Homo sapiens: one gene and its partners. The protein of the gene in region 1 purifies or fractionates together with the protein of each later gene. This does not show direct contact. Each region holds a gene or a part of one and is shown in the gene's direction. Other genes may lie near its edges. The genes, in order: SETD1A, NEK2, CDC42BPB, KAT14, LANCL1, PHF20L1 and TBC1D10B.

Region 1 (4,278 bases):
TTAAACTTCCCCAGGAAAAGAAACTTGGGAAGAAAACCAGGATTAGGAAGAAAACTGATGAGTGTAGTTGAGGTTGCATTTGAGGTGCCCCTTGGGCTTCCCAGTAGAAACAGTGGCAGTTGGATCCATGGATCTGGGGTCTGGAAAGAACGGTAGGCTGGATATGAGGTCGGTGCTTAGGTCTTGAAAGTGTAGCAGTGAATTCACCTATAGACCCAGGTAGGCGAGTGGGGGGAGAGAAAGGGCAGAGCCTTCCCATCCTGTGAGAGCAGTGGGCAAGCAGGGCCCGAGGAGGCTGAGAGCGGTGACCAGAGGCGAGAAGGGAAGCAGGTAGTGGAGAGGCTCTGCAAAGCAGGGAGTGGCCTTGTATCACCAGGCCACCAGCAAGGCTGAGATAGGAAGTATCTGTTGCATTTGACAGTTAGGAGGTCATTGGTGACCTTATCAATTTCAGTTGAGTGGTTCAGACTGAAGCCAAGTTACAGGGTGTTAAGGAATGAGGGGAGGGCAGTTTTCTGGAAGGGTGGACCACTCTTGCTGAGATAGAAAGGAGAGTTGGGGCCGGGCGCAGTGGCTCACACCTGTAATCCCAGCACTTTGGGAGGCTGAGGTGGGCAGATCACTTGACGTCAGGAGTTCGAGACCAGTCTAGCCAACATGGTGAAACCCCATCTTAACTAAAAATACAAAAATTAGGCTGGGTGCGGTGGCTCACGCCTGTAATCCCAGCACTTGGGAGGGCTGAGGCGGGCAGATCACGAGGTCAAGAGATCAAGACCATCCTGGCCAGCACCAACATGGTGAAACCCCATCTCTACTAAAAATACAAAAACTAGCTGGGCATAGTGGCACATGCCTGTAATCCCAGCTACTCGGGAGGCTGAGGCAGGAGTAATCGCTTGAACCGGGGAAGCAGAAGTAGCCATGAGCCGAGATCGTGCCACTGCACTCCAGCCTGGTGACAGAGCGAGACTGTCTCCAAAAAAAAAAAAAAATTAGCCATGCATGCTGGCAGGCGCCTGTAATCCCAGCTGCTCAGGAGCCTGAGGCAGGAGAATCACCTGAACCTGGGAGGTGGAGGTTGCGGTGAGCCGAAATTGTACCACTGCACTCCAGCCTGGGCGACAGAGCGAGACTTCGTCTCAAAAAAAAGAATTGGGGGTTGTGATATCAGCTCCCATGTGTCAAGTACCTATGTGTGCCAGGCTCTAGGCATAGCATGTTGACAATTCATTTTCTCATTGAATCCCCACAACCTCTCCCTTTTTTTTTTTTTTTTTTTTGAGATGGAGTCTCATTGTGTTACCCAGCCGGGAGTGCAGTGGTGCAATCTCGGCTCACTGCAACCTCCGCTTCCCGGGTTCATGTGATTCTCCTGCCTCAGCTTCCCAAGCAGCTGGGATTACAGGTGCACACTGCCACGCCTGGCTAATTTTCGTATTTTTAGTTGAGACAGGGTCTCACCATGTTGCCCAGGCTGGTCTCAAACCCCTGACCTCAAGTTATCAGCCCACTTTGGCCTCCCAAAGTACTGGGATTACAGGTGTGAGCCACTGCGCTTGCCCCACAACCTCCCTGTGATTCCCATTTTATAGATGAGGGCTTCAAGGCTTAGTGAGATGCAGGAACAAACTAAGGTTACCAGCCAGAGCTGGAGGGAGAGCAAGAAGAGAGGGCAGGGTTGAGGGAGGGGTTAGCTTTTCCAAGTAGATGAGGTTTGGGCATGTTCCACTGAAGGGAACGGGCCAGGTAGATGTGCCGGGAGAGAGGAATGCTTGCTGGCATGGCCTTTTTGGGGAGGTGGAGGAGTAGCTTCCAGATCTGATGCAGTTATACCCTTCGGTGGGGAGGCAGGGAGATGGGGGTGTTGTGCCTGAGTCCTCTTTTGACCCTGTTGCTGTAGGACTGTGAGAGGAAGAGTGGAGTAAGAACCTTGGAAAGTGGAGAAAAGTTGCTCCAGTCCAGGCGCGGTGGCTCACACATGTAATCCCAGCACTTTGGGAGGCCGAGGCAGGAGGATCTCTTGAGCCCAGAAGTTCGAGACCAGTCTGGCTAACAACAACAACAAAAAAAGCCAGGCATAGTGGCACATGCCTGTGGTCCCAGCTTCTGGGGAGGCTGAGTCGGGAGGATTGCTTGAGCCTAGGAGGTTGAGGAGGCTGCAGTAAACAGTGATTGTGCCGCTGCACTGTATCCTGGAGACAGAGCAAGCCTCTCGCCTGGGCCTCCCCATGCTGGAAGGCCTTGCCAGAGCTGGGGCCTGGGAGTGAGGGGAGAAGAGGCTGCTGGCTGGCTCCACAGGGTAAAGGTGTGGTGGAATGATGAGGACCTGGGGCTGTGCTGGGACAGGAGAGGGCAAAGTACGGGCCCTGGGGTCTGGGCAGGGTGGAGGAGGAAGTTGGGAAGAGGGTGATGTGCTAGAGGGAAACTGAAGGATGGGAAGTTGAAGGTGCAGTGGGGCAGACTGAATGGACAGTGGGGAATGTTGGAGAGGATGGGGAATCTCCAAGGCGGAGCCATTCTGGGATTGACAAGGCCAGGTGTGTGGCTGCTTGAGGGGAGCTGAGGGTGATTGAAGGGGATCACTGGAGATGCAAGAATCCAGGTAAACAGGCGTGATTGCCAAGTCCCCTGGGGAGGTGGCAGAGGTGGAAGAGGAGAGGAAGATGCAGGCAGCCCCTTGGTGTCTGGATAGTGAGAGGGCACGACAAGGGAGTCTGAGTTACCGAGGACAGAGGAGCCGTGGCTCAGAGCAAGGGGTGCTTAGTGAAGGCTCACTGTGTTTCTTCTCTTTTTTTTTTGAGATGGAGTCTCGCTTTGTCACCAGGCTGGAATGCAGTGGTGCCATCTCGACTTACTGCATCCTCAGCCTCCCAGGTTCAAGTGATTCTCCTGCCTCAGCCTCCCGAGTAGGTGGGACTAAGGCACGCGCCATCACGCCCGCTAATTTTTGTATTTTTAGTAGAGACGGGATTTCACCATGTTGGTCAGGATGGTCTCGATCTCTTGACCTCATGGTCCACCCGCCTCGGCCTCCCAAAGTGCTGGGATTACAGGCGTGAGCCCCCTCGCCCGGCCAGCTCACCGAGTTTCTAATAACCAGAACCAGTTTCAGTCACCACCGTCTTAGTGATTGCCGCCTGGGGATGTTAGTGATGGCCCTGGGGAGGGGCAGGTTATGCAGTAGGAACTGGCTTCTGGGGCCTCGCCCCATGGACCTGAGCGTGGCAGTAGAGCAGTTCTCAGAGGAAGGTGGTGGGAGTCATATTGACTGGGCAGGTGCCCCCAAAAGTTGTCTCCTAAATGAGAGGGATGGGCAGGTTCCCTTTGGGACAGTCGCAGAGGGAAGTGTGTGTGCAGCAGCTGTGCTGGTGGAGGAGTGTGTTCTTCGAGCGAGGCTTCCCGAGGACATGCATGCTGAAGCGTGAGGTGGTCTGTAGGGGGCGCTGCCCCAGCGTGGTGGGGAGGAAGGTGAGAGGAGGCCTGCATGCATCTGGGTCCTCACTGGCTTCCTGGAGTGGGTTGCTGCCACAGGCTGAGACCCCAGCGGGTGTCTAGAGCCTAAGGTGCAGCCAAGAGCCTGGCTCAGGGCGCCAGGGTTGGGAGTGCGGTGGACTCAGGTGAATCGCTGCCTCCTAGGGCCGGGCCTGGTGCCGGCGGCCCTGTTGGCGCTGAGCGGGGAAGCCAGTTGTGAAGCCAGTGAGTCCGTGGGCTGCAGTTCAGAGCATGAGCTCAACCCACATGGCCTGGGAGCAGAGCTTGTTCTGTCATCTGGTAACTGACCACATCTCTGTGCCTCAGTTTTCCTGTCTGTAAGATAGGACCCTCTGCTGGGTACAGTGGCTCACGCCTGTAACCCCAGCACTTTGGGAGGCCGAGGCGGGCAGATCACGAGGTCAAGAGATCGAGACCATCCTGGCCAACATGGTGAAACCCTGCTTCTACTAAAAATACAAAACTTAGCTGGGTGTGGTGGTGCATGCCTGTAGTCCCAGCTACTCGGGAGGCTGAGGCAGGAGAATCGCTTGAACCCGGGAGGCGGAGGTTGCAGTAAGCCGAGATTGCGCCACTGCACTCCCACCTGGCGACAGGGCGAGACCCCATCTCAAAAAAAAAAAAAAAAAAAGATAGGAACCTCTTTGGGCTGTTGTGAGGATTACATGAGTTACTCTACGTAAGAGGTGTGATTGGTGTTAGGCACAAAATCCATTGGGCTGGCTCTGAGAGCCTCATGCAGGCTTTCCCAGGGATGGCGGCCAAGGGAGGATGCACTCCCCG
Region 2 (4,278 bases), on another chromosome or scaffold:
GAAGCAGGGAAATTGAGTTTTCTGTTTGTTTAGTAATATCTAGTAGCCAAGAATTGAAAATACTGTTATATTTTTCCACATGGACCACCAGACCAATAAAGTCTATATCAGTTTTTGTTTGCTGCATGAGTTATGTGCATTAATGTAAGTATGATGAAGACAGATTCCTAGTCTAAGGTTTGCGCCGTTTGTCATCTCTCACTGGGTTCAATTTTTTGAGCATTCATGCAAATTAAAGCATATTCAGTTCAAGCTTTTATGGAATGACTATGATGCATTAAACTCAAGGATTACAAAAATGAAATGGATTTTGTCCTTGCCCTCAAGAGTTGTTTCCCAATGTGTAGGTCCTAGTTATCTGCATCAGACTCACTTGGAGTGTTTGTTTAAAATGCAGAGTTCTGGGTCCCAAACCCAAACCCAAATCCATCGAGTGAATTTCGATCTCTGGGTGGGTTCTTGAACTCTGTTTTTTTTTTTTTTTAATATTTTACTTTTTATTTTAGACTTTGCATTTAAGAGGCTCTGTAAATGATTCTTGTGTATGCAGAATCAGAGCTCAGGAAGTTTGCTCACTTCAGATAGCATGTTTTTACAATGTTAACTTTTTGTACATTTTATTTTTTTGTTGCCTATCCCTGAAATATCTTGCTGAGTCCACTCACCAATTACCTCTATTGCTGGATATTTTGTTTCCAACATGTTTCACCATTCTTAGAAGTACTGCTCTGCATATCTTTGTATGAATTATTCTTTCTTCCTTTTTGGTTATTTCCTTGGAGTGTAGCTCATAAAATGAAATTGCTGGGGTAAATGTTTATGGCTGTTATTAGATATTGTCTGATGGCTTTTAAAAAGTTTAAGTCAATTGTGATAGCACTAATGTGTTAGTATATAACATCTGAACAGATAAAGATGAAGAAATATTTGTTAGTATTTTAGTAGTTCACCTTTCTAGGATTTTCCAAATATTTATAAATTATGTTAACAGATCTTACTATAGTATAAAACTTTGTAAATTAATGATTTTGGTTTTGACTAAAAATAGCCAGAACAGTACCATTTTCTCACTGTATCAAATTCCAAATAGAATGTTTTTAACATAAAGGACAATTATCCAGAAGTGGTTCTTGGGAAATTTGAAACCTATTCTTTTGTTCCTTTTCCCTCCTGCCCTTGTAATTAGAGTGGTTCAGCTTTCCTAAGGCACTGATTGTCAAAAAGTGGCATCAGACTCACCAGTTGGACTTTAAAACACTAACCAGCCACTAGAGATTGCTTCTATTCCCTCTGTTGAGAATAGGAGCTCTGGTAGGCTGTTGTTACTGTAGATGTGGAAGAAAGGCAAACAATAAAATAGGTAAGGATAATATTAGTTACTACTGTGATTTATGGAGTGGACTAAGACAAAATATAAATGGATAATTCAATTAGCTATTTATGTCTATATCCATTTAAATGTGGACTAGATACATATTTTGACTATTCTTAAATTTCCTCTAGTTCTTTTAAAATGGTGTTTCTTAATTTGCCTTGAGAGTAGAAGTCTCTCATATTCACCTCTGTATTGTCAGTGCCTAGTCTATACTAAGCACTTTCATTTGTGAATGGAAAATGAGTGAATGAATTATGTATGATGGAGTGTATTGGAACAAGATCATTGCCTTTTTTCCATTATAAATTTCAAGATAAAGTATAAGCTAAAAACTTTGAGGTTCTGTTTTTATCTCAGGAGTAATTTAATGTGTTTTTTAAGTTTCAAAACAAAATAAACTCTTAACACCTTCCACTTTCTTACCCTTTTTCCCTGTATAGGAACAAATGAATCGCATGTCCTACAATGAGAAATCAGATATCTGGTCATTGGGCTGCTTGCTGTATGAGTTATGTGCATTAATGTAAGTATGATGAAGACAGATTCCTAGTCTAAGGTTTGTACTGTTTGTCACATTTCACTGGGTTCAGTTTTTTGAGCCTCTGTGCTAACGAAAGTATATTCAAGTCTGAAAGAATTGTACCCTGGGTAAAATTAAGGTAGATAGATGAACAGGCTAAAAGAAACTATTCACAAATTAAAACTATAAGCCATGAGGCTGGGTCTTGACTGTTCAAGGGTCTTGGCTGGTTAGGTGCTTTCTTATTAGATTGACACTTAGCTCAAGGGAGAGCACATAGGTCAGGCAGGTAAGGTAAAGCTACTGTAAGGATGTGGAAGAAATGAAACAAGACTCGGGTAGAGGTCTGGGGATCTGTAGAGCAGGGAAGAGCTCCAATTCTTTTCCTTTGTTCTTCTTTTCATTTTCTTTCCCTTTGAAACTATTCTGTAGAGCAGTGATTCTCAACTAGGGATAAGGGAAGCAAATTTGCCTCTTATGGGGCATTTGATGATGTTTGGATAAATTTTTAGTTATCACAGCTGGGGAGTGCTTCTGGCATCTAGAGGGTAGAGGGCAGGGAGGCTACAAAATACCTATAATGCACAGGACAGCCCCCCACAACAAAGAATTATATGACCTCAAATGTCAATAGTGCCAAGGTTGGGAAACTTACTTATAAGAAGAAAATCCCAGAAGTAGAAACTTAAATACAAACTGGAGCTTAAGCTGTGCTTTTGATTTAGTTCCTATTGTATATTTTCATTTTTACAATTTGAAAATGTCTTCGTCGTCTTCTTCTTCTTTTTTAACCCTAGGCCTCCATTTACAGCTTTTAGCCAGAAAGAACTCGCTGGGAAAATCAGAGAAGGCAAATTCAGGCGAATTCCATACCGTTACTCTGATGAATTGAATGAAATTATTACGAGGATGTTAAACTTAAAGGTAAAGATGATAAGATGATATATTGTCTGTTTCTAGCTGTCAGTTAAGTGTCAGAGCATACATTCTCTCTTGTAGATCAATGGAGACTGAAGAAACGTTAAATATACTTTCTTAGCTAAATTTACTGTGTTAACACAAGTGAAAACATATGTAAATTTGGCAAATTGCACATCCTTGCTGGCCCACCTTCTGCGCTTTCTTTATTTCTCCTCCCACTCTGTCATGCTAACAGATGGTCGGTAGCAAGGAAAGATTGCAAAAAGAATTCAAATTCTCGTTCCCCTTGTCCTTGCCTACCTCACAGTGGCAGGTAGTGAGGGAAGGGGCCAGAAATAAGAGTTTATTACTCTGCCTCTAGCTCTAATTGAGAGATTAAAGACCAGAAGAAGGGGAGGGGTGATGGAGGGCGGACGGAGGACAGCTAAAAACAGAGGGAAAATCAATAAAGAGATTATGTGGAAAAACTCTGGCTATAGAATGGGGAAGGAGATGTTCTGGGGACCAGGCTGACATAAGAGAAGAAGGAAAATGCCGTAGGATCACAGAGAAGGATACAGATGAAGTGACAGGATTGAGAGTCAGTGAGAGAGTATCTTGCTAAATGTAGTTTAGAAATGCAAGGGCAGTACTTCCCCTAAAACAGACCCTAGCAATGCTACCAAGCCCCAGCACAAGATGTGCCAATCTTCAGGGATTGAACCTTCTTAGAAAGGTGAAAAGGGGAAAAGGGAAAAAAGGTAAGTTAACATCTGCATTACCTTGTGGACCCAGAACCTCATGAGTTAAAACCACCAGTGAACTTATTTTTCCAAGTTTTTAAGACCTAGCCATAAAGGAGTCCTTTCTTTTGTCTTGGAAACACATTTTTGTCCTTTTATTTTAACTGCTGTCTTAGGAGGACTATTCTGTTATGCAATCTGACTATAATACTGAGTATTTTTTCCCCAGGATTACCATCGACCTTCTGTTGAAGAAATTCTTGAGAACCCTTTAATAGCAGATTTGGTTGCAGACGAGCAAAGAAGAAATCTTGAGAGAAGAGGGCGACAATTAGGAGAGCCAGAAAAATCGCAGGATTCCAGCCCTGTATTGAGTGAGCTGAAACTGAAGGAAATTCAGTTACAGGAGCGAGAGCGAGCTCTCAAAGCAAGAGAAGAAAGATTGGAGCGTAAGTCTGAATGGGGGTCAAAGCAAAGGAGAACTACCAAGTGGGTTATTTTGATGTGTCTGAATATCTCTTTGAGCAGAATATTTTATACATACAGATCTTATTAGAAGCTTTTGAAAAATACTTGAGAAACCAAAATATGTATTTTAGACTTTTTAATAATCAGGCTTGCTGGCACCTTCATGTTGGACATCTTTCTCTGAGATCAGTTGCTAGTTATATATTATTGGGCCTTAACTGTGATGGCCCTAATACGATAGCCTTGTATTTTACTCTAGAGTTACTTTTTTC
Region 3 (4,278 bases), on another chromosome or scaffold:
GGTTGAGACCATCCTGGCTAACACGGTGAAACCCTGTCTCTGCTAAAAAAAAAAATAAAAATAAAAATAAAATATAGCTGGGCGTGGTGGCGGGCACCTGTAGTCCCAGCTACTTGGGAGACTGAGGCGGGAGAACAGCATGAACCCAGGAGGCAGAGCTTACAGTGAGCCGAGATCACACCACTGCACTCCAGCCTGGGCGACAGACCGAGACTCCGTCTCAAAAAAAAAGCAGATGACCTGTGCGGACAGTACAGTTGGCCCCGGCTAAGCCTGAGGGTCAGCTCCAGGAGCCCCACACACACCCAAATCCTTGCAGACTCAATCCCACAGTCAGCCGGCCCTGTGGAGTTCGTGTAGAGAGAAAGTCACCCCCGATACTGAAGTGTCACATCCCTGGAATGCTGTATTCTCATCCACATATGGTTGAAAAGTATCTGTGAATGAGCCCACCCACGCATTCAAACCCATATTGTTCACGGTCGGCTGTACTGACTTTGTGTATGTTACTTACCCCTCCACAGATGCAGACAGGATTGCAGTCGGCCTAGAAGAAGGGCTCTATGTCATAGAGGTCACCCGAGATGGTGAGTGAGCAGGGCGTTTCCAGCCTGGGATGTCACAGGCCCAGCCTGGCCTCTGCAGACAGCACAGGGTCAGTAGCTCCTAAGGGTTAAGACAAATGCGCTTGATGAAGGCGCCGGAGGGGCCAGCGTGCCGTGAAGACCGGCATCGAGTGCATGGCGACGCGGTGCTAAGTTGCGTATCACATCCATCGAGTTCTTCAAGGGGAGCACTGAGCGGGAGTGGGTGGGGGGTCAAGGAAAGCCCCCTGGGAGGAGGAACAGCTGCAGCTTTCCCACATGTGCTGAGGCTTCACTTGAGAAGCTTTAGTTTCTTTGCTTCCAATTTTGACACTTCAGTCTTCCCAGCGAGGAAGGGCAAAGGTATCCTGGCATGCACCCGCTCCACAGCCCTGGGTCTAGGAGCAGAAACGTCAGGAGACTGGAACTGGCCATGGGCAGGGGGCAGGGGCCCAGGGGAGCATCCCTCAAGGAATCCAGCGACATTTCATGTGAGCCATAGTCCTTTCCCGACAGACCCAGCATCTCTGCATGTGATGGCCGTGGAGCGAGAAGGGCGGGGCAGCCGCTGGGCGAGGCCGTACCCTGGCAGCTCTGTGGGGAGATCTGAGCAAGCGAGGGGCTTGGGTTAGCCTGGGGGCCGTGTGAGGGCGGCGTCTTCACTGGGGGCCGTGTGAGTGTGAGGGCAGTGTCTTCACTGGGGGCCCTGTGAGGGCAGCGTCTTCAGAGGATTTGTCTCAGGGTCCCAGTGGGTTGGGGACAGCTCTTTGTCCCTCATGTGCAGCGTGAGGGCCCTCTGGTTCGGGGATGAGCTGGAAGGAGGCCCAGATCACCCCAGGGCCTTGCTGCGCGAGGACCCAGGTGGAAGCGCTGCCCAGCTGGAGCCCTGGTGCACTGAGGGGTGTGCACAGCAGCAGAGGCAGAGGAGCCTTTGGACCAGCCCCCGAGGCTGCCCCAGGAGCGCGCTGTGGATGTGGGGCAGCTTCTCCGGGGGGCGTTCAAGCCACTGGCTCTGTGGGCAGAGACGGGCTCAGGGCCGGGCTCAGGCTGTGCACACAGGAAGGGAGCCCAGGGGAGGGCCCCAGAGTGTTCCAGGCAAGTCTTTAGCCAAGGCCGTCAGCCCCTGGGAGCTGCTGGCTGTCCCGTCGGCCTCACGCTCTTGTCCTCCTTGCCACAGTGATCGTCCGTGCCGCTGACTGTAAGAAGGTACACCAGATCGAGCTTGCTCCCAGGGAGAAGATCGTAATCCTCCTCTGTGGCCGGAACCACCATGTGCACCTCTATCCGTGGTCGTCCCTTGATGGAGCGGAAGGCAGCTTTGACATCAAGCTTCCGGAAACCAAAGGCTGCCAGCTCATGGCCACGGCCACACTCAAGAGGAACTCTGGCACCTGCCTGTTTGTGGCCGTGAAACGGCTGATCCTTTGCTATGAGATCCAGAGAACGAAGCCATTCCACAGAAAGTTCAATGAGATTGTGGCTCCCGGCAGCGTGCAGTGCCTGGCGGTGCTCAGGGACAGGCTCTGTGTGGGCTACCCTTCTGGGTTCTGCCTGCTGAGCATCCAGGGGGACGGGCAGCCTCTAAACCTGGTAAATCCCAATGACCCCTCGCTTGCGTTCCTCTCACAACAGTCTTTTGATGCCCTTTGTGCTGTGGAGCTCGAAAGCGAGGAGTACCTGCTTTGCTTCAGCCACATGGGACTGTACGTGGACCCGCAAGGCCGGAGGGCACGCGCGCAGGAGCTCATGTGGCCTGCGGCTCCTGTCGCCTGTAGTATGTATATGTTTTCTGTTGCATATCCCTGTTGCTGCTTTTCCCACCGACAGTCAGCATGTGTTCGATTTTGCTTTGGTTTGTCTTCCAGTCCCTTAGTTGAGTAGTCACAGAGCATCGGGAGAGGTGGGCCCCATGCCAGCCCGCAGCAGAGAGCATGGTTCAGATCTCACGTCTCAGACCAGCAGTAGGCGGGCTCAGCAACCTCTCTCCCTGAGCACATGGGGCCGGTTCTTCCAGAGGCCTCAGCAGAGGACCCCGTCGGCGGGCATAGGCCCCTGGGCAGAAGGGCTCGGCGAACCGAGAACGGGGCGTGGCATTCATCTCTCATTTAAAAGGCCTTCCTCGTGATAATACAGAAACTTACACAGTAGTAAAGACAAGCTTGAGGGGTTTTGGTGGCCAGAAAATAATTCACCTCTGGTGTCTTAAGTTACAGTCCCTCTAAGGACAAGTATTTTCTGAAAGTGGTAGGGGCTGTTTTTCAAACAGTTGGGTCACTGAATTCGCCTAGTTGGCATGACTTTCTCTATGAATGGTGGCACTGGGGAACAGGTAGGACCAGTGGACACTTCCCGACTGGCCCGCTGTCCGATTGCTTTTAAAACCTTAAACCGGGTGGAGAGCGGTGGCTCACACCTGTAATCCCAGCACTGTGCGAGACTGAGGCAGGAGGCTCACTTGAGCTCAGAAGTTCAATACCAGCCTCATCTCTACTAAATAACAAAATATGGCTCACACCTGTAATCCCAGCACTTTGGGAGCCCAAGGCAGGGCGGATCACGAGGTTAGGAGATCGAGACCATCCTGGCTAATAGGGTGAAACCCCATCTCTACTAAAAATACAAAAAAAAATTAGCCGGGCGTGGTGGCGGGCGCCTGTAGTCCCAGCTACTCAGGAGGCTGAGGCAGGAGAATCGCTTGAACCCAGGACACAGAGGTTGCAGTGAGCTGAGATCGCACCACTGCACTCTAGCCTGGACAACAGAGCGAGACTCCGTCTTAAACAAACAAACAAACTAGCCAGGCACGGTGCCACATGCCTGTAGTCCCAGCTACTCAGGAGGCTGAGACAGGAGGATTGCTTGAACCCGGGACGCAGAGGTTGTAGTGATCCAAGATCGCGCCACTGCACTCTAGCCTGGGCAACAGAGCAGGACTCCGTCTCAAACAAACAAACTAGCCAGGCACGGTGCCACATGCCTGTAGTCCCAGCTACTTGGGAGGCTGAGACAGGAGGATTGCTTGAGCCCAGAAGATGGAGGCTGCAGTGAGCCATGATCACACCACTACACTCTAGCCTGGGAGACAGAGTGAGACCCTGTCTTTTAAAACAGAAAGGAAACCTTAAACCTCAGAATCCCTCTGATCTATCAGAGTGGCCTGCACCATCAAATCCACAGATCAAGAGGAGGCCGGGAGGAAGACGAGCCGCGCATATGGGGGTAACAGGCCAAGAGTTGGGGAATGACATTCTCCCTCAGTTACCTGAAGCTAAACCCCTTTGTCTGCCCCATTGTCAGCCTTGCTGAGACGGCATCATACCCAGGGCGTCGTGGCTAGACACCAGGCCTGTGAGGTGCACGGCCAGCTCCACCCACGGGCTTACTGCAGTGTGTCCCGGCTCCATCCCGATGGCCACACCACAGCAGACATGTGTGGGCAGTGGGGCTGGGCCGTGGGCCTGCGGTGAGGTGCAGGAAGGGGCCAGTCCCGCTGCCTCAGCACCCCTTGTCCTGGACTCTTACCCCCCAACACCCTGTCCTCTTCATAGGCAGCCAGCACAGGGTTTAAAACCACACAGGATTTACATTTTTGCAAAGCGTAACGTTGAAGAGGGCCCAGGTCACTTAGTGCAATGTATTTATAATCTTGGCCACACGTGTCTGGCGTAGACACCTGAAGTTCCTCGGTTCTCCG
Region 4 (3,615 bases), on another chromosome or scaffold:
ATGTATATATTTTTTGAGACAGGGTCTCATTCTGTCACCCAGACTGGAGTTGCACAATCATAGCTCACTGCAGCCTCAACCTCCTGGGCTCGAGTGATTTTCCCGCCTCAGCCTTCTGGGTAGCCAGGACCACAGGTGCACACTGCCATGCCCGGCTGATTTTTTGTAGGGACAGGGTCTCACTGTGTTGCCTGGTCTGTGCTTGAACTCCTTGGTTCAAGCAATCCTTCCACCTCAGCCTCCCGAGTGCTGGGATTATGGGCATGAGCCACTGTGCCTAGCTACATATTTTATTTTTGCTGATAGTTTGTAATTTTACTATCACTGTATAAGGCTGATATGAACCTTCTAAGATTTGATTCTAGTATTGAATTATAATTCATCCTTTAATATATTTGTATCACCTTTGAAGAAAATACACCATATATCACCATCAAAAAACATGCAAGGATTTTTTTCCCCTAGAATTTTTTTTAGTCAACTTTTACTTAGAAACCATTTGGTATGGAGGATTATATGTTTATGCAGGCAAGATTCCTTTTAAAGAGGAGATGAAGATGATAAAAGTTGTTTCTCCAATTTTTAATGAAACTTGCTTAATAATTCCCAAATGTTGGCAGGAACCTTGGAACCATTTTCCTAGAAATTGCTTTCCTTCTCTCCTTAGGCAGTGATTATGTAAATCACTCACTGAGTAATTAATATGTGCTACTTTGGGTGGTGGTTTTCTCTTGAGAGCTTCTCAGTTATTTCTACAACACTCCCTTTCTCTGCCCCATCCCAACCAAGAGTTGATCTCTCAGTATGCGTCTTTTTAACCTAGGAGAGCACTTAGAGGATTTGCTGCCGTATCTGTCACTGGTAAGGGCCTGAAGACAGGGCACGAATAGTACTCTGTCCTTGTGTGTGTGTGTCCTTGGTGCCCAACATGAGGGCTGGTACAGAGTCAGTCCCTGCTGAGTGTTTGCGAGGCCACTGGAGGAGTGGTTCATCTTTGCAGGTGGGCACCTTCCCCTCCAGCCAGACCATACCCCTGAGGGCCCAAACATAGGTGGCGCACAGTCGCTGGCACTCAATGATGGCCACGGTGAGATCACGTATATTTGCAATCTAGCAAACACCAATATGACCCCACAAAATTTGCTTTAAAAACTCACAAAGTGCTCTTGTCCCTGGCATACTGGTAAGTGCTCTCTTGTCCTAAAAATGCCTATGGATACACATGGAAGTTAAGCAGAGAAAGCAGGTAGCTATCAGATGACTGTCAACAGAGGAGTTCTTAGAGGCCTGAGAGAACCATGGGTTATAAATCTCAAGGACTCTATCAACTTCAGTATTTCAGTGCCTTCTTTATTAAAAAGTAAGTTCTTAAATGATATGACTTTTGGGACACCTTACTCTGTGTAGCTGATTAAAGAATCTAAGGACTTGCCTTGTGTTGATAGAATGATTGTTACTCTTTTCCCCTAAGATTAGGTCAAAGCTGAATGTAGAAATCTCAGTTCTAAGAAGCTAATTCTGTCAGTTTTAGAGAGACAGAAGGTGGACTTTGGGATTCAGAAGGTCTATACAAGGGCCTCAGGTTTTATAATTACATTCTTAATATTTCATGTTTGTGCATGTAATTTAGCAGGCCTAGTAAAGGAATTTTTACAGGTTTTGGGGAGGTACAAGATAACATCTAGTTTTAAAAAGCAAAACTTATTTTGTTTTGTATTTATTCAAGGTTATCATAGTGTTAGGTATTGAAATGTTTGACATATTTAAAGGTAATTGAGTTGTAAATAATAAAGCTGACAATAACAATATCCCCATTGACCCTTTGCTTCAAAGAAAAATAAAAAACACCCAGAATACTATCAGTTTCCTTGGTCTTGTGAATGTTTTGATCAGCAGCAAAATGTCATTCTGTTTCCAGCTGTTGCTAGGTGTTGCAATGTCTCAGCCTCAGTCTCTGATTTCTCCGGTTTCCATAACTAACTGCCTACACTTAAAAGCGTTTCTTTACCTACTCATTTTCCCTCAGGCCTTTCCATTTTTATCTTGTATTTTTCCACTCTTTTGGCAGACCTGCATGGGCAAGGACGTAACCCTTCACGTCTCAGCAAGCAACCCCGCTATGCTACTGTACCAGAAGTTTGGATTCAAGACTGAAGAATATGTATTAGATTTCTATGATAAATATTACCCATTGGAGAGTACAGAGTGTAAACACGCATTCTTTCTGAGGCTCCGGCGCTGATGCGAATACAGCTCACAGAGAAACGCATGTGCTATTGGAGAACAGGTCTTTGTGGAGATCTAAAGGCAGTGATTGATTTCACAGGGAGCTCTAATCTCTGTGATTACATGGTCCTTCAAACTCCCAACCAAAGTGAGAAAAGCGGCATGCAGTGAAATGAGCAGTGAGCAGCCCTTTAGCAAAATCGCCCTCCAGTCCTTCCTGGAGATGCCTTCAGCCAGCATCCCAGACTCCACAGTTATTTATGAATGATGTCGTGATTCTCCCTCCACCTGACAGTTTGTAAGAGTGAAAGAGCATCTAACCTGATGCTCTTGGAGAGAGATAACCTGTCTGTCATAACTTAAAGGATGAGAAAATGTGGTGTAGCTATTAAAGATTCATGCAGTCCCAAAAGGCACTGTCCTGGGATGATGAGAGATTATAAGGTGATTTCATAAAAGGAATCCAACCCTGTGCCCGGCCATTGATGTGTTGTCATTGAATCCAGGAGGATTTCTAGGGCACTGAAGTTTTGTTGTTTCTTTTGCTGACTTTGGTTACAGTCAGAAAAAATAAACTAGATGTTTGTGTCTACATGTTCTACCTGTTGTACCTATTAGCATCTTCCTGCAGGGACTTGGGCCCATGGCCTGGGAGGTTGGTTTGGGATTGGGGTTGTTGGGCAGCCTGCCATTCACCTGGCCTATCCTGGCCCTTCTCATGCCCAAGACAGTTGTTTCACAGGAGTGGAAGTGTGGGTGATGCAAGTAGAACCCTCTAGATGTACCCTGTGTGGTCTGCAGGACTGGACTGTTTGCTGTGTTTGTGGATGTTGGCGATAGACTGTCAATTAGGTTGTTTGTGATCCAACAAGAACATTTCCAAAAGTATCTAGGTGTTCTCAAATAAAAAGCTTTCTTTGCACAACCCATGGCCAGAGCGTCAATCTAGTCAGTTTGCTTTCAAACCCTCTTTAATTAAGATCAGTGGTTCTTAACTTTTTGGGACATGGATCACTTTGAGAATACAAAGAAAGCTGAATACTCTCTAGAAAACTGTCATGCACATTTAAAATTTTGCATCAGGGATCTGTCGACCACAAGTTAAGAACATCTGTTCTAGAAGCTGTACTTGCAGCCAGCTCGAATTCCTTTGTGAGAGAGAATGTGTTGAGCTCCCACATTAAGCCAATCTGGAAGCTGTTCAGTCATCTGGGGAAACAGTTGAGGCTCCATTTCATTTGTGAGAGGAACTGTAGCAGCACTGTCTTATCTATTTCTTTCCTTTTCTTTACCTCCTACCCTGCCTCCCAAGAGTTTTCTGCCTCTTTGGAAGGTTTTTGTTGACAGAATGGATTGTAACACCACGAAGTAAAATTGAGGAGACAACAT
Region 5 (4,278 bases), on another chromosome or scaffold:
GATTGGCCAAAATGAATAGGACTAATGATCCGTCAGAAATTCAAAGGCTTAGTATTAATTACTTCTCAACAGCTGGCTGTATTTATAGTACTGCTTGGCATAAGTTCCTGAGTAAGGAAATTGCAGATTTAGAAGTGTCCCTAAATAATTTACCCTCCCATCCCCAGGGTAGTAGCTACAGGAAAAAAAAAAAAATCTAGTTCACAGCTTTCGTGCTGAAGCCAGGACTGATTCCTATTACAACAGGAATTTTATTTGGTCCTCACAGCATGTTTGTTTGTTTGTTTGTTTGTTTGTTTGTTTGTTTTTAATAGTTATCAACATTTCAAGACCAAGAAATTCTTAGGGTAAACTGACAGGCAGTGCCAGACTTCCTGAACTTCTTGTACGGAATGACATCTATTCCTGGTCTTCAGAGCAGTACTCTCCTTGGAATGTTCTGCAGTAATGGAAATGTTGTTATTTCCATCGCGACAGCCACTAGCCACATGTGGCTATTGAACATTCTAAATGTGGCTAGCATGACTAAGATTGAATTTTAAATTGTGTTTACTTTTAATTAACTTATATTACTGTAGACATTTATGGTTAGAGGGTATCATACTGGACACTGCACTTCTAGATGAACCAGGCAGGTTGCAGGAGTAGTAATTCAAAGTACTATACATCTGGATGTGTAGATTTTCTTCTATGTTTTCTTCTAGTTGTTTTACAGTTTCTGGTCTTAAGTCTAAGTCTTTAGTCCATTTTGAGTTGACTTTTGTATATAGTATAAAATGAGGTTCAAATTTCATTCTTCTGCTTGTGGATATACATAATAGTCATACTTACGAATATGACATTTAGTAACACCATTTATTAAATATAAAATAATTCTAAACTCTAGATCAGTTTAGAGCAGATTTTTACAATTAAGTTCAATCAAAATTTAAATCTCATTCAAGTTTTTTCTGGTCTAGAAGAGAAGATGAAGGGAAGGAAGCATGTCTCCACTCTATTTTTTGCTTAGCAGACAGCACAAAAGGAAATGTAATGTGATATTCAAATTTAAGCCCAAGAATACACTTGGCTAAAACCGGCTTTTGTCACATTTTAAAGTAGATGCATATTCTTTGATAAAAAGATGAAAGAAAATATTAAAAAGATGAAACTGCCTACATCATTCTTTGTCAAAACTCGAACAATTTTGGCTGTTATGTTAGAAGTCAGTAGAAATGTTTTTTCTCATTAAGTGTCCTTCAGAGAATAGAATCATATTTGGGAATGAATTTATTAATGGATACAACTGTACTCTTTCCTCCCAAACCTGATTCTCCAACAGAGGGGTTTGCCATCTCAGTGGATGGCACCATTTTCCATTTAGCTGTTGAAGTTAGTCATCGGGAGGCATTTTGACATCTTCTTCTCCGCCATCCCCCACCAGGTTCTGCTGATTTTACTTTCTAGACAGGTATCTTTCCAGTTCATTCTGACAAGATCTGTATTGCACCACCCACCCTGTGTCTCGCTCCTACTCCTGAAGCATCCTCCTAACTGTTCCTCCTGCATCCACTGTTTCATACACTCCCTTGCAAACCTTACAGTGCAGTTATGGTGAACTTTTAACAAAACAAATCTAAGTATATTCTTCCCACGCTTAAAATGGGTGCATTTCAAATGAAACTCCAAATCCTAACTGGCCTGCTAGACTCTGTGTAATCTAGCTTCTGCCTGCCTCTCTAGCTTTGAGAAGAGCTGTCTTCCTTAGGATTAGGCCTACCAGGACATGGCAATACATCTAAAATAACAGTGGCTTTAACAGAACCGAAGTTTATTTTTCTCTTATGTAAGTAGGCAATCCATGGACTGGTGTGGCAGCTTCACAGTCCTCCAGGATTAGGTGGCTTTGATCTTTGAAACTTTACCACCCTCAGCACAGAGCTTCCAACTCATGGTCCTTAGACGATGACTGCTCTAGCTGCACCATCACATCTGTATTCCAGCCAGGAAGAAAGTAGAAAAGGAAATAAATCGCCAGTGCCTTCCCTTCAAGAACATTTTCCAAAGTTGCCTCCACTACTCCCACTGCATCCTGTTGTTCAGAACTTCGCCACATAGCCATACCCGGCTGTGAAGAAAATTGTTCTTAGCAGCCTGTGCCCAGCTAAAATCCAGGGCATTATTGTTGAGAGAAAGGCAAGATACATTTGGAAAACCACTTACTCTCCATCACAAGAGCTAACTCCTCATTTTCTAGAGTAGAATATGAGTCAGAAATATCTGACATAGAAAACTTAACAGATAGCACATAAGCATATTATTAGAAATAGACAGATACTAGAGAAAATGGCTGAAACTGATGAAAATGGTTGCCTCTGGAAGGCAGGAACACAGTAAACCAGAGGACTGGTGTTTTGCATATTAAATCTTTCAGTACTGTATAATTTTTTCCATGAAGAACATATATATTTTGATAAACATTGCATTTGAAGGCATTTCTAGGCATTGACTGAAGCCAGGCCCACAAGTATGTATTAGGACTGGGTGAATTTTCCCTGCAAAGCCCGTGAAGTTGTGTTTTTATTTCCCACCTTGCCAACCATCCCTGAGTCTTTGGTATTGATTCAAAGGTGGTGGTGTATGCATGGTTATTGTCAACAGTTGAGGACCATAAAGATCAGGTTTAAGACATTTGGCCACAAGCAGTCCTCCCTTTTTTCTGTCATTAGGACACATTCTATTATTTTCTATTATATAAAATACTGATGAGGTATTAAATGTCTGTGACATAATACATTTTGTCTTATTTTCCTGACCTGGGCTGATTTATAATAAGCATGTGCAGGAAACTTTTTCTAATTGGCAGCAGCACTCACCACTTAAAGTCCTTTTCCACCATGGATGTTCTGTGACAGGGAATGTAGACACAGTAAACTATCATCTGCAGAAGATTGCTTATCAAAATCCACAGACCCAGAGGCCCAAATGAGAGGTAGGGGAGAACTGGAACATGAGATTGTGGAATCCCAGAAACTAGAAAGATAATTCTCTGCCTATCAAAAAGAAAGTTTTAATCCAAATGTACTCTTGTGAGACTTGAGAAATGATTACCTGTTTTTCATGAGAAATACACCAAATCTTACAATTGCAAGCCTTAATAGGTTTTGTTTGTTAAATAGTTAAGCCAAGAGGAATTGTTGCTAATGAGAGACAAAGATCTGAAAGAAAAACAATCACTGGGCTTGTGTTTAATCACTTTTTATTTTCTCAGATCTCCATCATGTCATTATCTGGCTTTGGTGCTTACATAACTTAACTAGGAGAGTTCAGGCAGCAATGGGAATAGGAGGGCAAAATGAAAGGTTAACAATTTAAATGGATCACCTGCAGATGCGTGATATGGATGGAGATGAAGCCTATTAAGGACCTAATTTTAGAAGAAGCTCTTGACATCAATCATTTGTGAAAAGGGTTTTTTTTTTTTTCTTACCTACACACAAGGTTTTGTACACTTGTCTACAAACCTTAAGCATTGATGCATCTGATCATCAGCTTGTGGGATTACTAACACCAAGCCACTTTGAAAGAGCAGTCAAGGTTATTAACTTTGGCAGGAAATGAAAATTTGGCCTTAATATACATGTGAAATTGAATTGTCTGTAGCACAAAGCTTTGGAGATTACCCATGCAAAATGAGAAAACTATCTAAATTTAAAATTGTCCTCAGTACAGGGAAAGTAATTTTGCAGACAGCATTTTTACTGCATTGAAATCCGTGAAGATTGGCTCTATTAATTTAAATTTAAACAGAGGTTCTGTGTCTTCTAAAAATCGCAAATGAGATGGAAAATGTACTTCAAGGGAAAAAATGGGTTTCTGGATATGCTGCAGGCAGGCAGGCAGGCTTCCTACTCCACATCTTTGAGTCTGCCCTGAGACCAGTTAGCTTCAGAGGGAAGGCTCTTTCCACTGTGACAGGCATTTGAAATAAGGACATGCAGACAATGCCTCTATTACATATTTCAGGCTTCAAGAGTAGGGTAAGAAACTGATCAAGTAGAGCCCAAGGCAAAAGTCATTGGTGGCTTTTACATTACATTTACCAAAGTAGGTGGGCCCTCGACAGAAAAAAATCTAGGGGTTGAATATTTTTTCTCAGCTATCAAATAACTTTCTTATAATCCCTGCCTGGAAGGATACTGGGGCAGGGGATTTGGTTACATTAACTACCTTTTCACAAAAAAAAAAAAAAAAACACACACACACACAAAACAAACTTTTACGTAAAGAGAAATTGAA
Region 6 (4,278 bases), on another chromosome or scaffold:
TTGTAACTTGAGAGTAATGGATGCTGTAGTGATGTCTTTCACATATGTGAAGATGAACAATAAAATTGTTTATTTACAAGTAATGGCTCTAATTACTTTTCTGGCAACACCTTTTATAATAAGGTTAGGAATACTATCCATTTATGAAGTACCTTTTCAAATAATTAATCTGCACTTATACACATTTATAATGAGTAAATTCAATAATAGAAATGATGACAACTGAATGAATGGGACACTTGACACCAGGCCTTTTATGTGGTATGTCCAACATGCTGTCTATAGAGCATTGAAGGTGCCCTACTTAATACCAAATATGCACTTTTCTTCCCCAGCAAAATTTGACTTGTATCTCAGTGGGAACAGAATTATTTATTTATTTAGTCCCCAGAAAATGATCGTTCATATTCCAGAGAACTGCAGACAGCAGACCTGATAGTTATTCTCCACAAGATATGGAAGTAAAAAGATTTCTTGGGGACAAGCATGTTGTTTATAGTGCTAGCAGTCTGATTCTTTATAAAGGCCTATGGTAGAATAGATTTTCAAAAAATGCATATTATATATTTTGCTCTCAGATAAGTATATCAGAAAGAGATAGAAGTATTGCAGAACCATAGATTGCAAATTCATCCAATGTAGTTATTTTCTCTTGTTTTGAAAAATGGACACATTCACACATATTTTAACATATGTAGGAAATTTTACAGCCAAATGAATAAAAATGATCTTTTATGAAAGAACTGACAAAGTTCTAATTTTTTTTTAAAAGTATCAGTTGGCAGGAAGAAGGTAAAAACTCTCATCTAAGAATGCGACGTATTTTGTTTTTAAATCCAATGTTTTTAACTTACACTTTATCTCTTTGGTTTTTTTTTTGTTGTTGTTGCTTGTTTTGTATTGTTTTTTAGTCTTTTAACTCTATATTGCTGGTGGCTCTGATTTCATGATGCATTGTGCTTATGAAACTCTAGCTTTCAGCACTAAAATGAGTTAAAGATAATGTTTTGTTAATTTGGTCATTGTTTTTCCTGTTCAGATCTTTCTTTAAAGGGAATCTGTCTACTTAGACCTTTACATTCAACTTAAAAGAAAAGATTTTATAAGAAAACATCTAAAATCAAAAGCTTAAATGTATTCCTCTAATCCTTTAAAACATGAAAATGCTGTTTATTTTTCGAATTATTGTCATTGGCAATTATGGTTCCTAAAGGGGTATATTTCTATTTAATACTGAAAATATTTGTCCAGTAAGATAACATTTTATGTTCCGAAAATATTATGAATAATATATTTTAAAAAATGAATTTAGACTGAAAGTTGACAGCATCCCTTTAAAGACAGCCTATTCAACTTTTAGTTAATAATTTGTGGGGTTCTTTTTGGTTTTTCATTTGTAATAGAAATGTTATATGTTGCTTAACAATGTTTCTGGATACTAAAGTTGCTTAACAGTCAAAATAGAATACAAGAACAAAAATGAAGAAGCCAAAATAAAAATATCAATTTTTTATTATTTATTCAGGCGATTTCACCTAAACCTCAAAGTCAGAAAAAAAATGAAGCTGACATTAGCAGTTCTGCCAACACTCAGAAACCTGCACTGTTATCCTCAACTTTGTCTTCAGGGAAGGCTCGCAGCAAGAAATGCAAACATGAATCTGGAGATTCTTCTGGGTGTATAAAACCCCCTAAATCACCACTTTCCCCAGAATTAATACAAGTCGAGGATTTGACGCTTGTATCTCAGCTTTCTTCTTCAGTGATAAATAAAACTAGTGAGCACAGATTTTTAAAAAATAGTTATTTATCCTATAAGATACATTAAAAACAGTTTGATTGTAGTTATATTGTATTTTTATGAAGTTGCTTTTTAAAAACTCAAGTGGATATGATAGGGAAGGCTTGAAACTATTTCAGGGGCAAAAACCATAGACATTTCTTACTGATTTATTGCTTAGAGACTACTGCTGGTTGAGAATCCTTTCCATTTAATAACACAGATTCCACTGTAGTTTGACTCTCCTCAACTCATAATCCAAGCATACTGAGAGGCCTGATTCATTACAAAAAAAAAAAGTTATAAAAAGACCCAGGATAGCTATTTTTACTTAAGACTATTCCTGTAGATTTTTTGTCCCCACTTGTCTATAACTTTCCTCTGCAATACATTTTATTCATTCTTATTATAATATTTATAGTCTAGACTTCAGTTTAATCTTTTTAATGAAAAAAAAATGCCCCCATGATTGTATTTTTAAAGATTTTACTGTTTCAGTACTTCTAATTTTTCAAGAGTTAACGCAGTCTTTTTCGAAAACACCTTTCACATGGGTATATCTATCTATCTCCCTATATATCTGTATATATAAATAATACAAGATTTGTGTTGACCCTGAGTTTCTCATATTAGTTTAGTATCCTAAGTTGGAGACATGAATAACAGTTATTTGAAAAGTCAGTTGGTAAATGATGGTTTTTTTTGCTCTTTATGCAAAAAATGAAATACATGATCAGTTGAGTGAATATGACATGTTTCCTTATTCCATATTGTGTCTTCCAGAATAATCAAAGATGTTGGCATTCAGAAGACTTTTATCAAACTTATTAACCTATTTTCCTTCAGTTGCCATATTTTCTACTGAATCATTTTTTCATTTTGATCAGGTTTTGCTTTTTCTTTTTAATAGGTGGAAAGAATGGGAACATAATTCAATTGTTTTCCTAATAAGCTTCATTTCATTATGGCATTTATCATGAAATAGTGTCAGTAGTAGTCACTGGAATGTCATATGACATTAATAAACATTTTATTTTGGAAATTATATCTTGGTATTATAACCACAATATTATAGCAATTAAATTTTATTCTTTCATATTTTTAAGTTATCAGCATGTCTTTTTCGTTTTGATTGTAAAATTACTCTTAAATACCCAAACATCAATGTCTTTAGACTGTTCTTATTTCCTCTTTCTAAATTAACATGAATATATTGGCATATATAATCTTGCCTATTCTAGTCAAATGTGTTTGTATGCCATGTAGAAAGAAGATATCTAAAAGTGTGAGAGACATTTCCAAATATTTATATTATATTGCTAGAAGATGCCTAAATTACTTACCAAGTTGTTAAAAAACACAAGTACACAATGTCATAATCTTAAATATCCTCATTATTTGCTCACAATAAGTATACAAAGTTGTTTTTGTTCATTTTTTTTTTTTAATGAATCAGGCCCAGACATGTTTATAAAACTCCATTTGGGGGGGATGATGATGGGATAAAATTATTTACATTAGTGTAAAGTAAATCACTAACTCTATAATGTTGTATCATCTTTGTCCCTGCCTTTTTTTCCCTTAGAGTTTCTAGATTTGCAATGTAGCAAAAGGAATACATATATATATATTTTTCCTTATCTTTTGCTGTAAAGAGACTATTTTCCCGAAGGAAAAATGGCAATTTACACAACGATCTGCAATTAGAGAAATTAACTGTAGTCTGTCACTTGGGGGAGCTACTTGAAATTAATGTTCCATTTTATTTTCTTTTAGTTCTAGTAGAGTGTAGATTTTACAATTTTTGATTGACTCATTTTGAATGAGGGCACAATTTTTGCCTTTGATTACCTTTGGAACATGCCATTCCTTGTGGATATCTTATAACAACATCAGAGGGAAGAATATAAATCATTTTTTCCCATTTATCTCCTTAAATATTGTAAGATGCTCCTGGTATGTATCTGCTTCGTGAACATTGAAGATCTTTTTCTAGGTCCTCCACAGCCTGTGAATCCCCCTAGACCTTTCAAGCATAGTGAGCGGAGAAGAAGATCTCAGCGTTTAGCCACCTTACCCATGCCTGATGATTCTGTAGAAAAGGTTTCTTCTCCCTCTCCAGCCACTGATGGGAAAGTATTCTCCATCAGTTCTCAAAATCAGCAAGAATCTTCAGTACCAGAGGGTAATGTATATTGATTTCCTATAGAACCAAACATAAAAGAAGATAAAGAAAAAACTAAGAGATAAAGATTATTAAAATATTAAGATATTTCTGCTCTTATATCTTCTGGAGTTATAAGCACTTCACTTATTCTACAAATATTTATTGAGTGCCTTCTTTGTGCCAGGCACTGTTTAAATTATGTAACACTTTAATTCACAGTGATAGTAACTGAGCCATTTTATCTGTGTTAATATTACATTACACTCTTTATTTTGTGTAGTGCCTGATGTTGCACATTTGCCACTTGAGAAGCTGGGACCCTGTCTCCCTC
Region 7 (4,278 bases), 610 kb from region 1:
ACTCGGTTTATAGATGAAGAAACAATTAGTGCAGTTGAGTGAATTGTCCCCCTCAAATAATCTGGATCTGTGTGACCAGTGGCTCTCTCCTCAATAGCAGGCTGTCCTGAGGAACTCGGGCTGAACTTAGTTTGGGGGAGTCCCTCTTGTGTGCCAGGCACTATGCCGGGTGCTGTTTCTTTGCTTTGTAGCTTTGTCCCTGTAAGATCAGCTTCAATGCCAGAGAACTCTACCTCTTGGGCAAGACTGACTGTAATCCATGTTACTTTCGCAGCGTTCAGTGGCTCGCTGCTGTCCACAGGATGAAGTTCAGGCTCTTTGGCCTGCGCATAGCCTCTCTGGTCACCTTTGCCACCATTCCTCACCGGGTGCTTTGCGCTGTGGTCCTGCTGAACTAGTTGTAGTCCTTTCCCCTTCATATTCAGGCTGTGCACCTGCCAAGGGTGCTCTTCTCCCCTTTCTTTGCCTGCTAAGTTCTACTCATTTCTTCATGGCTTACCTCAGATGTCCCCTCCTCCAGGAAGCTTCCCTGATACCCACTGCCCCCACTCCAATTAGATGTGTCTTTGGTGCATCTTTGTCATTGCATTTCCCATGCTGTATTACAGTTATCGCTCCTCTTAGGCTGTAACCTTCTTGAGGGCCAGAAGGTATCTTACTCTTCCCAGCCCTTGGTAGAGTTTGTAACCGACTTATGATAGAAATTAATGAGAGATGGTCTCTCTGTTTAAGGAGCTTCTAGAACAAAGGAAACTAACATTTAACGAGCCCCTTCTATTTAACAGATGTTTATATGCAGTTTCTCAATAGTCTTCTCATAACTTTGTGATGTAGGTGGTGGTGGTGTTTTTTTTGTTTTGTTTTGTTTTGTTTTGTTTTTGAGACGGAGTTTTGCTCTTGTTGCCCAGGCTGGAGTGCAATGGTGCGATCTTGGCTCACTGCAACCTCCGCCTCCCAGGTTCAAGCAATTCTCCTGCCTCAGCCTCCCGAGTATCGGATTGAAGACATGTGCCACCACACCCGGCTGAGTTTGCATTTTTAGTAGAGACAGGGTTTCACCATGTTGGCCAGGCTGGTCTTGAACTCTCGACCTCAGGTGATCCGCTTCTCACTTCTGACACCTCCGCCTCCCAAAGTGCTGGGATTACAGGCATGAGCCACCATGCCCGGCCCGGTGGTGTCTTTTTATAATTGAGGAAGGGACTCAGGTCATCCCTTGACAAAGCTCCCTATTGTCTCAGAGACAGAACTGAAATTTGAACTTAGGTAGGTTTGATTCTTAAGACCCAAGCTTTCTTCCGTTCTACTCACCTCCTAGTACTGGCTCCTACAAGTAAGTGTTTGAAGAATGATGGGGCACCATGAGTATGAACCTCTGACAGAACAGTGAGTAAATAGGGCAGGGAGTCCTTTATTTGCCTGGGGTGATTTCAGGGAGGAGGAGGTAGAGTAAATTGCAGGTGACCCAAGGGATCTTAAACATTTGATAGGACAAAACTCAGATGGTTGCGTCTAAAGAGACAGAAGTACATTTGTTCTGTATTTTATTTTATTATTATTATTTTTTTTTTTGATGGAGTCTCGCTCTGTCATCTGGGCTGGAGTGCAGTGGCACAATCTTGACTCACTGCACCCTCCGCCTCCCGGGTTCAAGCGATTCTCATGCCTCAGCTTCGCGAATAGCTGGGATTTCAAGCACGTGCCACCATGCCTGGCTAATTTTTGTATTTATAGTAGAGACAGGGTTTTACCATGTTGTCCAGGCTGGTCTCAAACTCCTGACCTCAAGTCATCCGCCTGCCTCGGCCTCCCAAAGTGCTGGGATTACAGGTGGGAGCCACCATGCCCGGCCTATTTTATTATTTTATTTTTATTTTTTGTAGAGACAGAATCTCGTTATGTTGCCCAGGCTGGCCTTGAACTCCTGGCCTCAAGTGATCCTCTTGCCTCTGCTTCCCAAAGTGCTGGGATTACAGGCATGAGCTACCATGCCTGGCCCTCTAGGGTATTTTATTTTATGGATAGTAAGGTATTACTTAATGGGCACTTCGCTGTGTGTTATTTCGTATAAACCCCTTCGGGTAGATATTGTTACTTTCTCCACCTTACAGATGAGGAAATTGGGCTTAGCAAAATTAAGTGATTTGCCCAAGGTCACACAATGAATAAATGGTAAAGCTAGGACGTGGATCCAGATCTAATGCAAAATGTGGCTTTAAAATACTCCATACTCTCTCCCCAGATTTGGATGTGTCAGAAGTGAGATTTAAATATGACCTCTGAATAGAGATCCATCAGGGAAGGAAGCCCTTTCAGTGTGCCTTGGGATGCCCAAGTGGCCAGACATCCTGATGTTTGGCAGCTCACAGACTATCCAGTTTCTCGTTTGAGCTTGGGGAGGTGGCTTGCCTCAGTTCCCCCTGCAATGCAGGTTTTACACTATTGCTACTGACCCCTTCCGTGCTCCCCCGACCCTGCAGAGAGAGCTCCATTCCCGTGGACGTGGCTCGGCAGCGGGAGCTCAAATGGCTGGACATGTTCAGTAACTGGGATAAGTGGCTGTCACGGCGATTCCAGAAGGTTTGAGGGCTGAATGGTGGGCAGGGCAATGCACAAGTTGGGAGGGGTAGCATGTGCTCCAGGGAAGCCCAGGAAGCCGATAATATCTGCCCTCTGGACCACACTGGGGATAGATGGGCCCTGGCGGGGGAATGGCTTTAAAAATAGAAGTCCAGGCCAGGTCCAGTGGAATCAAGCCTATGGGATGTCGGAGGAGTATCCAGGGAGTTTGTGGACTGCTGGGGAAAGGTTGGAGGCTGTGCCAGCCCTTGAAGCTGTCCCCCTCCTGCCACTTTGCCTTAGGTGAAGCTGCGCTGCCGGAAGGGGATCCCCTCCTCTCTCAGAGCCAAAGCCTGGCAGTACCTGTCTAATAGCAAGGAACTTCTGGAGCAGAACCCAGGAAAGTTTGAGGTGCGTGCAGCTCCAAGGTGTGGGGACATGTGGCCCTGTCTGTGCAAGGGGTATCAGTTCCCCCAGATGCTGAGGTAATCCCCACTGTCCCACTGCAGGAGCTGGAACGGGCTCCTGGGGACCCCAAGTGGCTGGATGTGATTGAGAAGGACCTGCACCGCCAGTTCCCTTTCCACGAGATGTTTGCTGCTCGAGGGGGGCATGGGTAAGGTGGCCGGACCATGGGGGTCAGTCAGCAAACATTGGCTGGAGGATCCACCTTTTAGCTAGGTGGATACAAGACTGAGTCGAAAGTGGTTTTTGCCCTTCAGGACTTGTAGAAGAGCTATCTGTAATGGACTAAGTGTCAAGCCATGTCAAAGGAACTGTCCTGGGAAGGAGACTTGACTCAGGTTGTGTGTGGGGGCACGTCATGGGCTCCTTGAAGAGCTTGCATTTGGGCTGGGTTTTGGAGGGGTGGGAGCTACAGCAGTGGGGCAGGGTTTTCCTGCCTGGGGGTTATGGAAAAGATCACCAGGGACCCTTAAATGCTATGCCAAAGCATTTGGAATTTTGTTCTATAGACCAAGCTTCCTCCAGATGTCAGTATATACTCTTCTCTAGTAGTATGCAAGATGATCATCTTAGGGAGTTCTCTGATGGACTTTTTTTTGTTTTGTTTTTTGAGATGGAGTCTCCCTTTGTTGCCCAGGCTGGAGTGCAGTGGTGTGATCTCAGCCCACTGCAACCTCTGCCTCCCAGGTACAAGCAATTCTCATGCCTCAGCCTCCTGAGTAGCTGGGATTATAGGTGCACACCATCGTGCCCAGCTCATTTTTGTGTTTTTAGCAGAGACGGGGTTTCACTGTGTTGGCCAGACTGGTCTTGAACTCCCAACCTCAAGTGATCTGCCCGCCTTGACCTCCCAAAATGCTGGGATTACAGGTGTGAGCCACTGCGCCTGGCCAGATGGACTTTTTGTTCTTTCTTTTCTTTTTTTTTTTTTTTGAGATGGAGTTTTGCTCTTGTTGCCGAGGCAGGAGTACAGTGGCACGATCTTGGCTCACTGCAACCTCTGCCTCCTGGATTCAGGTGATTCTCCTGCCTCAGTCTCCCAAGTAGCTGGCATTACAGGTGCGCGCCACCACACCCGGCTAATTTTTGTATTTTTAGTAGAGACGGGGGTTTCACCATGTTAGCCAGGCTGGTCTCGAACTCCTGACCTTAGGTGATTCACCTGCCTTGGCCTCCCAAAGTGCTAGCGTTATAGGCGTGAGCCAACACGGTCAGCCGGACAATTTTTTAAATCAATAATTCATCCTTTAGCAA

What was found.
Region 2: the proteins of SETD1A (region 1) and NEK2 purify together in Homo sapiens (affinity purification with mass spectrometry, with the first as the bait; one large-scale study listed by BioGRID). This does not show direct contact.
Region 3: the proteins of SETD1A (region 1) and CDC42BPB purify together in Homo sapiens (affinity purification with mass spectrometry, with the first as the bait; one large-scale study listed by BioGRID). This does not show direct contact.
Region 4: the proteins of SETD1A (region 1) and KAT14 purify together in Homo sapiens (affinity purification with mass spectrometry, with the first as the bait; one large-scale study listed by BioGRID). This does not show direct contact.
Region 5: the proteins of SETD1A (region 1) and LANCL1 purify together in Homo sapiens (affinity purification with mass spectrometry, with the first as the bait; one large-scale study listed by BioGRID). This does not show direct contact.
Region 6: the proteins of SETD1A (region 1) and PHF20L1 purify together in Homo sapiens (affinity purification with mass spectrometry, with the first as the bait; one large-scale study listed by BioGRID). This does not show direct contact.
Region 7: the proteins of SETD1A (region 1) and TBC1D10B purify together in Homo sapiens (affinity purification with mass spectrometry, with the first as the bait; one large-scale study listed by BioGRID). This does not show direct contact.

Annotation. Positions count from the first base shown.
Region 1 is NC_000016.10:30,974,166-30,978,443, forward strand, and holds part of SETD1A (histone-lysine N-methyltransferase SETD1A), read left to right. Parts: intron 1-4,278. UniProt on the Homo sapiens protein: Histone methyltransferase that catalyzes methyl group transfer from S-adenosyl-L-methionine to the epsilon-amino group of 'Lys-4' of histone H3 (H3K4) via a non-processive mechanism.
Region 2 is NC_000001.11:211,668,822-211,673,099, reverse strand, and holds part of NEK2 (serine/threonine-protein kinase Nek2), read left to right. Parts: intron 1-1,815; coding exon 1,816-1,898; intron 1,899-2,692; coding exon 2,693-2,819; intron 2,820-3,767; coding exon 3,768-3,987; intron 3,988-4,278. UniProt on the Homo sapiens protein: Protein kinase which is involved in the control of centrosome separation and bipolar spindle formation in mitotic cells and chromatin condensation in meiotic cells.
Region 3 is NC_000014.9:102,941,971-102,946,248, reverse strand, and holds part of CDC42BPB (serine/threonine-protein kinase MRCK beta), read left to right. Parts: intron 1-524; coding exon 525-587; intron 588-1,761; coding exon 1,762-2,358; intron 2,359-4,278. UniProt on the Homo sapiens protein: Serine/threonine-protein kinase which is an important downstream effector of CDC42 and plays a role in the regulation of cytoskeleton reorganization and cell migration. Regulates actin cytoskeletal reorganization via phosphorylation of PPP1R12C and MYL9/MLC2.
Region 4 is NC_000020.11:18,185,218-18,188,832, forward strand, and holds the end of KAT14 (cysteine-rich protein 2-binding protein), read left to right. Parts: intron 1-2,068; coding exon 2,069-2,242; 3' UTR 2,243-2,818; downstream 2,819-3,615. UniProt on the Homo sapiens protein: Component of the ATAC complex, a complex with histone acetyltransferase activity on histones H3 and H4. May function as a scaffold for the ATAC complex to promote ATAC complex stability. Has also weak histone acetyltransferase activity toward histone H4.
Region 5 is NC_000002.12:210,455,767-210,460,044, reverse strand, and holds part of LANCL1 (glutathione S-transferase LANCL1), read left to right. Parts: intron 1-4,278. UniProt on the Homo sapiens protein: Functions as a glutathione transferase. Catalyzes conjugation of the glutathione (GSH) to artificial substrates 1-chloro-2,4-dinitrobenzene (CDNB) and p-nitrophenyl acetate.
Region 6 is NC_000008.11:132,813,112-132,817,389, forward strand, and holds part of PHF20L1 (PHD finger protein 20-like protein 1), read left to right. Parts: exon of another isoform or gene 1-79; intron 80-1,525; coding exon 1,526-1,778; intron 1,779-3,776; coding exon 3,777-3,965; intron 3,966-4,227; coding exon 4,228-4,278.
Region 7 is NC_000016.10:30,363,797-30,368,074, reverse strand, and holds part of TBC1D10B (TBC1 domain family member 10B), read left to right. Parts: intron 1-2,480; coding exon 2,481-2,580; intron 2,581-2,862; coding exon 2,863-2,970; intron 2,971-3,068; coding exon 3,069-3,175; intron 3,176-4,278. UniProt on the Homo sapiens protein: Acts as a GTPase-activating protein for RAB3A, RAB22A, RAB27A, and RAB35. Does not act on RAB2A and RAB6A.